2 linked regions of the Homo sapiens genome follow. The protein of the gene in region 1 interacts with the protein of each later gene in a biochemical or structural test. Each region holds a gene or a part of one and is shown in the gene's direction. Other genes may lie near its edges.

Evidence for each region. The genes of interacting proteins can lie anywhere in the genome.
Region 2: the proteins of LATS1 (region 1) and MOB3C form a complex in vitro, tested with the Homo sapiens proteins (one study listed by BioGRID).

Annotation. Positions count from the first base shown.
Region 1 is NC_000006.12:149,680,086-149,687,110, reverse strand, and holds part of LATS1 (serine/threonine-protein kinase LATS1), read left to right. Parts: intron 1-2,518; coding exon 2,519-4,032; coding exon of another isoform or gene 4,033-4,095; exon of another isoform or gene 4,096-4,197; intron 4,198-5,587; exon of another isoform or gene 5,588-5,650; intron 5,651-6,653; coding exon 6,654-7,025. UniProt on the Homo sapiens protein: Negative regulator of YAP1 in the Hippo signaling pathway that plays a pivotal role in organ size control and tumor suppression by restricting proliferation and promoting apoptosis.
Region 2 is NC_000001.11:46,613,788-46,620,706, reverse strand, and holds the start of MOB3C (MOB kinase activator 3C), read left to right. Parts: upstream 1-3,895; 5' UTR 3,896-3,996; intron 3,997-5,573; exon of another isoform or gene 5,574-5,736; intron 5,737-6,919. UniProt on the Homo sapiens protein: May regulate the activity of kinases.

The DNA of each region.
Region 1 (7,025 bases):
TCAAAAAAAAAAAAATAAAAATCTTGGAGATCTTGGTGAGGTTGCTACTTAATAAAGTTTAAAAACTTTTGCAGTAGGAGTAAACAGAAGAAGTAGTTGTGGTCTGGGAGTATAAGCGTATAAACCTTAAAGTAGTTATTCTGAAACAAGAGCAGATATGAGTAATACCAAAGTTTGAAATACAATCATGAGAATGATACTTGATGTGGAGTGGAAGAGGGGACGTCAAGAAGCTGAGATATGAGGGCAATAGATGGTTTATCCTCGTGGTTATTGAGGTTACAGGATGAAGGCAGGGCTTAGGGTAGACTGAATGCTGAAGCTGTGGCTGAATGAAATAGAGCAAATAGGCAGGAGCTCATTAGGTGAGAGGAATTAGTGTGGCCTCCCACATAGCATGAAGTTCAAAAGAGCTGGCTTTTTAAAAGGAATAATATCAACCTGTAAGAACAAATGTTAGAACCCCATCTTTAGGCCAGGTTATTTTTAAAGGAAACCTTAATTTCAAAGGGCTGAAAGGAAAGTAGTATCAGCAGAAGAAAACCAGCTTCAAGGAGGTGGCAGGAAAGCTTGGAGGAGAGGTTACTGATAAGGCACATTTGCTGGCTGTGGAGCCGAGTGGATCCGGAGGGCATGGTGGAAAGGTTCGGGAAGTGGAAGAACATGGAGAGCTCTGTGGGAGGCGCAGAACAACAGGGGTGACTGTATACTCTAAAAGCTGAATGAGTGACATGGTGTATTTGGCCTCAGCTGGCCTCTGAGGAAAGTGAGAAAGAGCCTGATGGCCAGAGGACTTGTCCAGTTTATCCGGAATGATAATGTTCCCCAAACATTATTTACTCACTTGCTTTTCGTCTGGCTCCTGCTTCGAGAATGTAGACCCAAAATGCTGTCCAGCCTAGATGAAAGGGAGTGTTAAACTGAACATTATGAACATTTACCACATTTTACCACTTTTTTTCTCAGATGTATTGTTAGATATATTTTTGCCCAGGATGATGTTGACCTTTCAAATTTATTAGTATTCTTTTTTGTTTTGTTTTTAATGGTAATGAGTGTTTGTATTTAGATCTCTACTTTTGTCATGCCTGGGAAGACATTCGCAAGAGGTACCCCAATACTATTGAATGGTCTTTTGTTTTTTTCTAGTGCTTACATGATTTCATCTTTAATATTTAAACCTTTAGTCTTTCTAGAATGTATATATGTATTGTCTTTATACCAGTGTATCTTGTATATTTTTCCTAAGTGGCTGGACTATTCTATTTTAAATACTTCTCTTTTTTTGGTATTGTATTTTTTTTTTTGCTTGTTTTATTGATTTGGAAATTCCGTTAAAGACAGTTTCTGTAAAATCTATACTTTATTTAATATTCAGCTAATTATAGCCTACTATCTTTTTCTGTTTTAAAAACCATATTAAAAGGCCAGGTGCAGTGGCTCACACCTGTAATCCCAGCACTTTGGAAGGCTTAGGAGGGCAGATCACTTGAGGTCGGGAGTTTAAGACCAGCCTCGCTAACATGGCGAAACCCCGTCTCTACTAAAAATACAAAAGTTAGCTGGGCGTGGTGGCGTGCGCCTGTAGTCCCAGCTACTCAGGAGGCTGAGGAAGGAGAATTACTTGAACCCGGGAGACGGAGGTTGCAGTGAGTCTGTGCCACTGCACTCCAGCCTGGGTGACAGAGTGAGACTTTGTCTCAATTTAAAAATATAGATATATATTAAAATATATTTAAAATCAGTAGAGCTATGAAAATTACAAATAGATACGCCCTTTGGCCTAATAATGCTACCTCTAATAATTTATCTACAAATATACATGCATATATATGAAATTATATCTCTTCAAAAATATATATATATTTTTTTTGAGATGGAGTCTTGCACTGTCACCCAGGCTGGAGTGCAGTGGCACGATCTCAGTTCACTGCAGCGTTGGCCTTCTTGGTTCATGCAATTCTCCTGCCTCAGCCTCCCGAGTGGCTGGGACTACAGGTGCACACCACCACGCCTGGCTAATTTTTTTGTATTTTTAGTAGAAATGGAGTTTCACCATGTTGGCCAGGCTGGTCTCGAACTCCTGGCCTCAAGTGATCTGCCTACCTCAGCCTCCCAAAGTGCTGGGATTACAGGCGTGAGCCACCACGCCTGGTCAAAAATAAATAAAATTCTAAAAGGTAAAAGGAAACCACTTAGTGAAATTTTATTTTTATAACTCTTTTTTTTCTTTTTTTGCTAAATTGAGCCAAATAACATGTATTATTACCTCACATATCATTTTTTTGTAGTGAGAATACTTCAAATTTACTCTCGGCAATTTTCAGGAGTACAATACGTTGTTATTAACTACAGTCACCATTTTGTACAAGAGATCACTTGAACTTTTTTATATTTTTATAATTCTTGAAAGAGAATTGAGTATCATTTGTAATATCAGAATTGCAAGCTAAGGTTTTCAAAAATTAGAGGTTAAAAACATGATTCTTTTTTCTCTTTATCTCTCTTATAACCATAGGGAATGTGCAGCAATCAGTTAACCGCAAACAGAGCTGGAAAGGTTCTAAAGAATCCTTAGTTCCTCAGAGGCATGGCCCGCCACTAGGAGAAAGTGTGGCCTATCATTCTGAGAGTCCCAACTCACAGACAGATGTAGGAAGACCTTTGTCTGGATCTGGTATATCAGCATTTGTTCAAGCTCACCCTAGCAACGGACAGAGAGTGAACCCCCCACCACCACCTCAAGTAAGGAGTGTTACTCCTCCACCACCTCCAAGAGGCCAGACTCCCCCTCCAAGAGGTACAACTCCACCTCCCCCTTCATGGGAACCAAACTCTCAAACAAAGCGCTATTCTGGAAACATGGAATACGTAATCTCCCGAATCTCTCCTGTCCCACCTGGGGCATGGCAAGAGGGCTATCCTCCACCACCTCTCAACACTTCCCCCATGAATCCTCCTAATCAAGGACAGAGAGGCATTAGTTCTGTTCCTGTTGGCAGACAACCAATCATCATGCAGAGTTCTAGCAAATTTAACTTTCCATCAGGGAGACCTGGAATGCAGAATGGTACTGGACAAACTGATTTCATGATACACCAAAATGTTGTCCCTGCTGGCACTGTGAATCGGCAGCCACCACCTCCATATCCTCTGACAGCAGCTAATGGACAAAGCCCTTCTGCTTTACAAACAGGGGGATCTGCTGCTCCTTCGTCATATACAAATGGAAGTATTCCTCAGTCTATGATGGTGCCAAACAGAAATAGTCATAACATGGAACTATATAACATTAGTGTACCTGGACTGCAAACAAATTGGCCTCAGTCATCTTCTGCTCCAGCCCAGTCATCCCCGAGCAGTGGGCATGAAATCCCTACATGGCAACCTAACATACCAGTGAGGTCAAATTCTTTTAATAACCCATTAGGAAATAGAGCAAGTCACTCTGCTAATTCTCAGCCTTCTGCTACAACAGTCACTGCAATTACACCAGCTCCTATTCAACAGCCTGTGAAAAGTATGCGTGTATTAAAACCAGAGCTACAGACTGCTTTAGCACCTACACACCCTTCTTGGATACCACAGCCAATTCAAACTGTTCAACCCAGTCCTTTTCCTGAGGGAACCGCTTCAAATGTGACTGTGATGCCACCTGTTGCTGAAGCTCCAAACTATCAAGGACCACCACCACCCTACCCAAAACATCTGCTGCACCAAAACCCATCTGTTCCTCCATACGAGTCAATCAGTAAGCCTAGCAAAGAGGATCAGCCAAGCTTGCCCAAGGAAGATGAGAGTGAAAAGAGTTATGAAAATGTTGATAGTGGGGATAAAGAAAAGAAACAGATTACAACTTCACCTATTACTGTTAGGAAAAACAAGAAAGATGAAGAGCGAAGGGAATCTCGTATTCAAAGTTATTCTCCTCAAGCATTTAAATTCTTTATGGAGCAACATGTAGAAAATGTACTCAAATCTCATCAGCAGCGTCTACATCGTAAAAAACAATTAGAGAATGAAATGATGCGGGTAAAACCTTTTAAAATGTCCATTTTTATACTTAATCATCTGTTTGCTTGGTGTTTATTTTAAAATATTGTGTCCAGTATTTTTCTTTCTTTTTATAGCTAAATAAAATATATTATCAGTTATGGAATTTAAAAGTGAATAAATATTAAAGTACTTTTGATTGTAGCATTTTATTTTAGTATTTCAATATTTATTCAGAATTTCCTATAATAAAATCTCGTGTAAATTAAGAAAAATATAATTTGCGGTATACAGTTTAGGTGTACATAATACCTTTATATGAAAATTGGAGGAAGGGTTGTCTTCTAGGCTTCATACAATATCTTACAACATTTAAAAATAAACTAGAAATATGTGGGTCTCAGGCTGGGGCATGGGGGCTCACGCCTGTAATCAAAGCACTTTGGAAGGCTGAGGCAGGCAGATCATGAGGTCAGGAGATCGAGACCATCCTGCCTAACACAGTGAAACCCCGTCTCTACTAAAAATACCAAAAAAAATTAGCTGGGCATGGTGGCGGGCGCCTGTAGTCCCAGCTACTTGGAAGGCTGAGGCAGGAGAATGGCGTGAACCCCGGAGGCGGAGGTTGCAGTGAGCCGAGATCGCGCCACTGCACTCCAGTGTGGGCGACAGTGAGACTCCGTCTCAAAAAAAAAAAAAAAAGAAAAAAGAAATACGTGGGTCTCATCTCTTGATATACTTATAAAACATTTACTTTTAGAAAATTTGGAGTTTATAGGTTTATTCATCACATATATCTTATTAAAAAGTGTAAAGAAGTTTCCTTCAGTTATATCTCCCTTCTCATTTCATTTTTATAATATACTGGAGAAAAATGTGCTAAAATTATTTAGTGAAACTATACTAAAAGGGAGATCAGAGTAAGTAAACACACTTTAATCTGTGTTGTCATTCCACATAGATCTCTAGATATTAAGGTAGTACGATCATCATTTTTTTTTTTTTTTGAGACGACATCTCACTCTGTCGCCAGGCTGGAGTGCAGTGGCGCCATCTCAGCTCACTGCAACCTCCGCCTCCCGGGTTCAAGCAGTTCTCCTGCCTCAGCCTCCCCACTAGCTGGGACTACAAGCGCCCGTCAGCACGCTGAGCTAATTTTTTATTTTTAGTAGAGGCGGGGTTTCACCATGTTGGCCAGGCCGGTCTTGATCTCTTGACGCCATGACCCACCCGCGTCTGCCTCCCAAAGCACTGGGATTACAGGCATGAGCCACTGTGCCTGGCCATTATTGTTTTTATCATATGCTTAGAGTTCAAAGATTTGACTCCTAATCTTACATCTGTCACTCACAATCCAAGAGGCTTAACCTTGTGATTAAACACCTTTATATACTTGAACCATTCTTTTAAAATGATTTTAATAAATCTGATTTTACAGTATTGTTATTTCTATTTTATATTTTATTAAATGAGAAATACCATAATAATTTCTATGACTTATCCATATTTTAATTCTTAGGATTTCTTACTAAAGTCTGCCTATGTGTATTTTCTTAGTTTATTTTTCCTTTTTCCTCTTCACTTTCACTAATAGCTGATTTAAACTTTTATGGTGTTGGAAGCTTTGCTGACTTCTGTAGTCTCCATTACTGTGTAGGCAAGTAAGATTTTAAGAGAAACAGTTCTGAACTAAGTCTGGCATGCCATCCTTCTTAAAAGATTTTGCATGCAAATGTGAATCCTAACAGAAGCATGTGGTTGTTCTATTTTAGTCTTGTATTTCTAGAATTAGACCCCACTTTTCCAACTGGATTTCTTTTCTATTTAAACCCTTTAATTAATTCTTTATTAATTAGCCAAAATGTTTCTCCCTTCTAAATCCAGGCATTCCATATCTATAATACTTAGAAGTTAGTTTTTGTTTTTAATCTATTTTTTGATATTTTCATGAGTCACACTGAAGTATTCCTAAGTATCCAAAGGATATCTTGTAAACAACCAGGTTGTTCTTTTCGAAGTAGGAGAAACCCTTTGCAATTTGTGTTAGTGGTAGACTGTGAGTCGCACCTTTACTCTGATGCCCTGAAAAATAGAAAAGGAAAGATTATTAATGACTGTTGTATATTTATTGAGAATAGGGAAAGGATTGGTGGGTTAGAAAAGGCATTGTTTTGTTGTTCTTTGGTACATTAATTTTTTAGAATAAATGAGCCTGGAGTGGAAGAATTTTTTTTCATGAAAGACAAAATAGGAAGAATATTTGAGGCCTAGGCATTCCACCAAGAGAAGCATATACAGAGAGATAAATGAATATGCATGTTAACATGTTAACAGATGTTTGTTGCACATTGAGAACCTTTTTTTTTTTTTTTTTCGGAGTGCATTAGAGAAGAGTAGAAAGCTTACTCATCTGGTACCCTCTTCTTGCACTCCACAGCTGAATTTGCATAGGTACTCACTTTGAATATCCTTTTAACTACCCCTTAGGCTGCACTTTTGATCATTAATTTCCTTTGAAATGTTTTCTAGATTTCTAACATGCTTTATTAAAAATTATGCATTTAACCTTTAAATATATGCCTGAATTTTTCCCAAGCTATTTCTTAATATTCAATATTGAAGAAGATAATTCTTATTTAACATCTAGTTTATTTGCCTAGGTTGGATTATCTCAAGATGCCCAGGATCAAATGAGAAAGATGCTTTGCCAAAAAGAATCTAATTACATCCGTCTTAAAAGGGCTAAAATGGACAAGTCTATGTTTGTGAAGATAAAGACACTAGGAATAGGAGCATTTGGTGAAGTCTGTCTAGCAAGAAAAGTAGATACTAAGGCTTTGTATGCAACAAAAACTCTTCGAAAGAAAGATGTTCTTCTTCGAAATCAAGTCGCTCATGTTAAGGCTGAGAGAGATATCCTGGCTGAAGCTGACAATGAATGGGTAGTTCGTCTATATTATTCATTCCAAGATAAGGACAATTTATACTTTGTAATGGACTACATTCCTGGGGGTGATATGATGAGCCTATTA
Region 2 (6,919 bases), on another chromosome or scaffold:
CAGCTCTGATGTGCCAAGCGCCCCTTCATATTGTCCTGGGTGTCTGCCCACTGCTCTCCAGGACCCTGGAACAAGCTCAGTCCCTCTTCCACACAAACACCTGCTGGGTGTTTGAAGGCAGTACCCCTGAAACAGACTGACCACAGCCTTCTACTGTTTACAAGTGCTATCACATTTGATTCTCTCAGCTCTTCTGTGGGGCAGATGTTGTTGTTGTTGTCTTTACTTTAGAGAAGGTGAAATAGGCTCAGAGAACAAGTGCCTTGTCCATGGTCACACAGAATTTTAGTGCATGTCCTTGTCAACCTTGTCTTCCCCTGCCATCTTCCCTTGAACCTTGTCTTCTTCAAGTGAAAGGAAGTTTAACCTCAATTCCTCTGACTGCCGTAAGGGTGCCCATGGCATTCTCCTCAATGGGCCAGGATGGAAAATCCAGGACGGATGATCCTGCCTCCTGGGCAGGGAGGGGCAGAAGCTGAAATGGAAACTCTTTCTTGGGAGAGAGTGAGTAGAGGGTGGGCCCTATCAGGCTATAGTAGCTGCCAGACATCTGGTAAGGTGAACTGAGGGTGCAGTATCTTATTCTGGGGGGCAGGGTGGGAGTGGGGGAGCTTTCTTGGCATAGGAAGGGCTGGGGAGTCCCCAGGAAGTGGCCACTCTGTATCAGTAGAGTCACTGGATACAGGCCTACAGCGGGAAGGCACAGGAAGCTGGTTCTGATAAGGTACTTGGAGTGGTACTTCGTATGGCTAGAAGATGCTTTCATGGTAGAGGTGTAGAAACTAAGGCCCAGAGAGGGGCAAGGGCTTTCCCAAAGGCACACAGCAGGTAGACACCACCCTGCTGCCACTCAGAGTTCCCACTGCGAGGGGGGCATGTGCCCAGGCTGAGTAGTGGAAAAGGGCACGTCCTCTCCTAGGTCCTCACTGGCTCACGCCAAGCTTCAGAGATGAGCCTTGTTTGAAGTCTTCTGGAGCCATTTATCATACTCAAGACACAGTGGCAGGGAACAGAGCCCATCTTGTGTAGGTCTCCAGTGCTGGAGGGTTACAGTGTCTCATCAGAGAGGGCAGAACCATCCCAAGGCCACACAGCTAAATTACGGTAAAGCCAGGACACTGTTCTCCAAGGTCTGGGTCTTTTCAGCCCCAGCAGAGCCTCCTAGAAGAACTAGTCTCTCTAACCAAGACTGAGAAGGGCAGGAAGAGGGTACAGGTAGTTGAGAGATCTGGGCTCTCTCGCTTCCCCCAACCCTTCCACCTGCCTCCCATCCCACAGACACCCAGGGACTCTGAGGATGAGCTGGGAATTTCTGATGTTCCTTCAAAATGGATCATCTCTATTTCCCACAGTGTAAGGTTCTGTGCTGTTCACTCTTCACCAGAAAAACTCCTGCCTATCCTGTAAAACCCAGCTCAGAGGTCCAGAAAATGACCCTGCACAAAGCCTCTGCAGAGGAAGTCACATCAAATTCTGAAGAATCTTCCAGACCATGATCTCTGACCACAATGCAATATAATTAGAACTCAACAAGAAAAACATAAACCTCCCATAGGCTGAGAAACTGAAAAACATACTTTGAAATCATTCAAGAGTTAAAGAGGAAATTACACTGAAATTTATGAACTATTTAGAACTGAATGATAAGGAAAACACAAGCAGTTTCCAAATCATTTCCCCTATGAAGTCAGCCCTGACCCCACATGGCTCCTCAGATGGCTCTCCACCCTCTACCCATTTCTACGCCCTAGGAGGCTGACGTCTATGGGCTGCAGCAACAGGTTCCCTTGTTCTTAGCTTCTGGGAGGATTCAGCTAGTGGGGGAAACCTGGCCAGAGATCAGACGGAGGGAGAGAGGGAGGAGAGTGAGGCCTCTTACTTGCCCCCTGTCCTTCCCTGTATGATTGCTGTGAGCTGGGTATGCCCCTCCACCTTAGGCCACAGCAGCGCCCTCCTCATAGCTCCCACTTTCACCATTCCTTCCCCACACTCCTGCAGCCTGGGGTTGACAGCCTCTGCTCTTGTGAGCCCTTTGGTGATACACTGTGTGGTTTCCCTACACCTTGACCATACCTGTAAATAATGTCTTCATTAAACATACCCATTCTGGGTGTTCCATGTGCTTCCTGCAAATACCCCGACTCTTACAAAGTCCGTCAGTCCACAACCACATTCTCACTTCTGGGTGACTGAGCTGTGACCTTGTGTATCTCTGTGTGTTGTCCCCTTTACTGACCTGTCAGCACCTGAGGTCGGCAACCAGGTCAGCTTTATCACCCAGTCCCCTGATCTGATATGAGTGGAGAGTTATACTCAATAAAAGATATTGATTAGGATATCAAATAAATAAAGAAGCATAGTTTAATTTGCTCCATAAGCAAGTGTTTGTTTATAGGGGATTCAGGGCAGAGAGTTAAGAGTCAGACATAAAAATACAGAGAACTTTAGACTGGGGCAAAAATTGGTGCTCAACAAAAGAACATACCCACAGTTCTATGAGCTGGGATTCTTTCTTTACTTTTATTTTAGGTTCAAGGGTACATGTGTAGGTTTGTTATATAAGTAAACTCTGTGTCATGGGGATTTGGTGTACAGATAATTTCATCACCGAGGTAAGCAGCATAGTACCTGATGGGTATTTTTGTCTCATCCTCCCTCCTCCCGCCCTCCACTCCCAAGCAGGCCCCAGTGTCTGCTGTTCCCCTCCTAGTATCTATGTATTCTCATTGTTTAGCTCCTACTTGTAAGTGAGAATATGCAGTATTTGGTTTTCTATTCCTGTGTTAGTCTGCTTAGGATAATGGCCTCCAGCTCCAGCCCATGTTGCTGCAAAGGATATGATCTGGGTTAAGGATCTAGCGTGTTCTCATGTCATCCAGCAACAGAAGGTCCAGACACAAGGGAGGTCCAGTGTGCCATGGTAAATGCCCACCTCTGGCCTCCAGCTCTCCCCTACCCGCATCTACTCACCTCCCACCCCTCCAGAGTGGCTTCTATGGCTAAGCTCTCTGCTTTGGGCTTCCTACCCTAGAAAGCCTCCAATCTTCCCTCCCATCCCAGACAGAGCAGCCAACTGGTCCCTGGGCCTGGGGGCCACGGTGTGCATTGAATGCTGGTGGGATATCTGTCTGTCCTCGAAGGAACCCAGGTGGTAGGGAGAGCAGATCAGATCTTGAGTGGTTTGGATTTGTCAGAAGGAAGGAGGGAGAGAAGGTATTCTAAAATGGAACAGCTGGGATAAGGGTCTGGAGATAAGAAATGGGGTGACTCTGGGTAAGGAGCAAGGAGAATCAGCCCAACCTGAGCCAGGCCCCCTCCCTGGTGAGGAGATGAAGTTTGTGATTTGAGCGCTCTTCTGGGGCTTGTCCCTCAGGGGTGAAGGACTCAGCTCATGATTCCCAAGGCGTTCATTTATTCCTTCACTCACCCATTCATTCATTCATCAAGTGGGTTTTGAGTTCCTGCTATGTGCCAGGAGCTGAGGATATGGGAGTGGATAGGACGGTCCCGATCCCTTATTGGGTCCCGGGACAAGTGTGACGCAGACGATTCTAGGAGGGCAAAGAAACCACCCTTATCTAGCAGCTCTTGTTTCTGCTCCAGAAGAAGCCGAGCGTTTTCCCATTTTACTGTCTGGGAACTTGAGGCTGCCTCCTTGGTGGAGGTCCAAGGAAGCACCGAGAGGGCGGGCAGCTCAGTTAGTCCTTTGTCCAAGGGGAAGCTGGGAGCCCCATATGGACTTTCCGGGAAGGTGGGGGCGAGTGCGTCTGTGTACTGGAGTGGAGGGGAGTCCCCTTTCTCCGCCCCTCCCCGCCCCGTGGCCGCGGCGTGGCGGGGCCGGGGCGGAGCTGGCGTCGCCCGGGGCAGGAGGGCAGCCGCGGCCGGCAGGACAGGCAGACGGACAGGCTGACAGGAGAGAGAACAGGCACTGCGGGACCTGCAGGAGAAAGGCGATCCTGTGGCTGGGAATGTGACCCCACGGCCAGAAGAGGACCCGTGAGTGTGCGCCGTGCCCCTGCGGCCTCGCCGCGCACCCCGCCCGCCTGGCTTCCACTTTCATTTCTTCGGCCGTCCTGGCGTGGCACAGTCCGGAGGAGAGTCCCGCCCGAAGGCAGGCTGGCCGCTGTCCTGAGGCTGGCGTCCGAGGCTCAGAGCTTCGAAAGTTGCGGGGGGGATTGTCGGGGTGGGGGAGTACGGGGCAGAGGGGAGGGGTTGGGGGGCGTGTTTTCGGGGAGCGGAAATGTCAGGCGGGCTCCTCTGGGTCCTACGACCTTCCTGGCCCTGGGAGCTGGTTTGAGGTTGCAGGGAAGCCGGGGGTGGGCGTGGGTGGCTGCGCGCCGCGAGGAGAGCGTGGAGTCTTCGCCTCTACTTTTTCTCTTCGACCTCTGTCCTAGAGAGAGTCCCAGGATGGATTCTGGGTTCAAACTGGGGCCATCCTCTGGCCCAGATCCTGGGCCAGGCCCAAGGAGTGGTAGATGTAGCCTAGCAGGGGGCTAAATATCAGAAACAGGTAGGGTCAGCCTGCTGTCTTCATTTGAGAAGCCCAGATCCGCACCCAGGGAACGAGCAAGGCACTGCCACTCCAGGAGTGAAAGGATAGCCATCACTGGGAAATGGGGGCTAGGACGGGGAACGGCAGTGGTTCAGGGAGAGACAGAGGTTCTGTGACAGATAGAAACTCAGTGAGGGCATGGGGGTGGGGAGTGAAGGGAGTTAACCCTGTGGCTAGAAGAGCACCTGCCCTGCACCCACCCCCTGAGCTTACATTTTCCTGGAAAGAGACCCAGGCCTTGAAGTTCCACAGGAGTAAGGTGGAACTCTAGCTCACTGGTCAGGACACCCCAGTTGCTGTGCGGAGTCAGTGTGTTGGGGACAGGAAGCAGGTTGGGCTGTTTGGTGGAGAAGATGCTTCCACTGTCCCTCCACTCCCCTCCTCTTCTCTGTCTCCACCAGACCATTGATGAGCCAGTGCAGGAAAATGGTCTTTTACTCTTGGTCATGAGCTGAGCCCCACCTTATCCCAGTTCCCAGTTCTGCTTGTAACTTGCTATGTGGACACAGGCTCCTCAAGTCCTCTTTTTAGGCCTCAGTTTCCTCATCTGGGCCTCAGTTTCCCCATCTGTACAAGTGAGTTGGGCCAGCTGATCTATCAGGGCTATTTTAACTCTAAGATTCTAGTCTAAGCTTTCCTTAAAGCCTGAACACTGACTTTGTGCCAGGCCTTGTCCTAAGCTGGGGGTGGGTTGGGGATGGAGTGGAGACTGCAATGACCAAAAGCAGCCTCTACCCAAGGAGAAGGAGATCTGAGTTCAGGAGAGGAGGCTGTGGGAGGAGGTAGCAGCCAATCTGAGGATGTGTGGTCAGGCAGGTGGAGGGATAAGAAAACATGCAGAGGCAAAAGAGTGGGGGCGTGTTCAGGAATCAGGAAGAAGCCCAGGGTGGTTGGTGTGGGGAGGTGGGAAGTGGGGCAGGAAAGGTAGGACAAGGTGCTGAATGCCAGGGTGGGGGCCTATTTCTAACTGTCATAAAGGGGGCCATGCAATGTGGGGAGCCCAGGAGCCCCGCCTAATTGCAGTGTGAGGGATTTTGGAAGCACTTGCCCCAAGCAGAGTTTAAAATGGAGATGGCAAATGAAGCGCAGAAATCTCTTTGCTCTGGAAACTGGGGTCCCACCCTGGGGACTTCTTTGGGTGAGAAGTCGAAGAGTCGGGATGGATGAGATGACCTTTCACATCTGTGAGTTTTTTTCAAGAGAACAAGTTCCTGCTGAATGGCCTGTTTCTACTCTCCAAGCTGCTCTCATTTTACCAGACTGCCCCCATCCTGGCCTGCCTTTGTGGGTTCAAGGAAGGACCTTTGTCTCAAACAGCTCCCCAGCTAGTTTGACTTCTTGCCAGAAGTAATACCCCTCCCCGAAATATGTGCCATCCCTTTGCTTTTACCCAGGTGTCACCTGGTTCCCACCCTCCCTTCCCCAATCCTGTCCCAGGGTTACCAGAGATGTGAGAAAGGACAGTGCTCCAGCGTCAGAGGTCAAGCCCAGGCTTTGGCCATAAGCAAGCCTCAGGGTAGGGCTAAAGGCTAGAGTCAGGGCTCACACTTGCCAGAGCCCAGGTCAGAGGTCAGCCAGGAACCAGAATGCAATTCTTAGCTTATACTCAGCCTTAGTGCTCAGTCTAGGGGCAGGGGCAGTGTGCTTAGTGGGTGGCTAAATTCTAGTTTTGGTAGGTACATGGGTCTGCATTTCCCAGTAGCTCACACACTCACAGTTGAGATGAGATGACTCAGGTCTTAGAAACCTAGCTATAGCAGAGTGACCCAGGACCTGGATGGGCTAAATCCATGGTGATACAGGGGTCACCCAGTAAGCCAGTGGTAGAGCTGGGACTAGAACCCAGGACTCCTGCCTCTGAGCCTAGGGCCCTGATCACTGTCTCCCAAAATTTGTTCTGAATCTGGGATCCTTAAATTCTAGGAGGCAAAGTAAATTTGCCTGAGCTCTAGATGGGCCCTCCTGGGTGCATCTGACTATACTCTTCTACCTCCCAGTGCCAGGCACATAGTAGTTGCTAGAGGAATGTCTACTGAGTGTCAGGTGCAACGGGAGGAGCCAGTGGCTTGTTCAGATTTGGGGCTGGAGGAGGCTGGCTTGAGGGGAAGGATCTCCAGCTGTTGTCAGAGGAAGCGACGCCCTCATTGGCCTGCCGCCCTCCCCCTCCTCCAGTGCTTGCAGCCACACTCAGAAGCCGCCCAGCTGGCAGCGGGAGGGCCCTTTCCTCTTTCAGGGTGAAAAAAAAGGAAAGGACATTTTTGGTAGAAAAGTTCCCTGCTGCTCCCTGGGAATCCCCGGTGGCCGGATGGACTACGGGATATCCCAGAGGAAGCCGAAAGCCACCCCCGACCCCCCTCCACCCTGCCC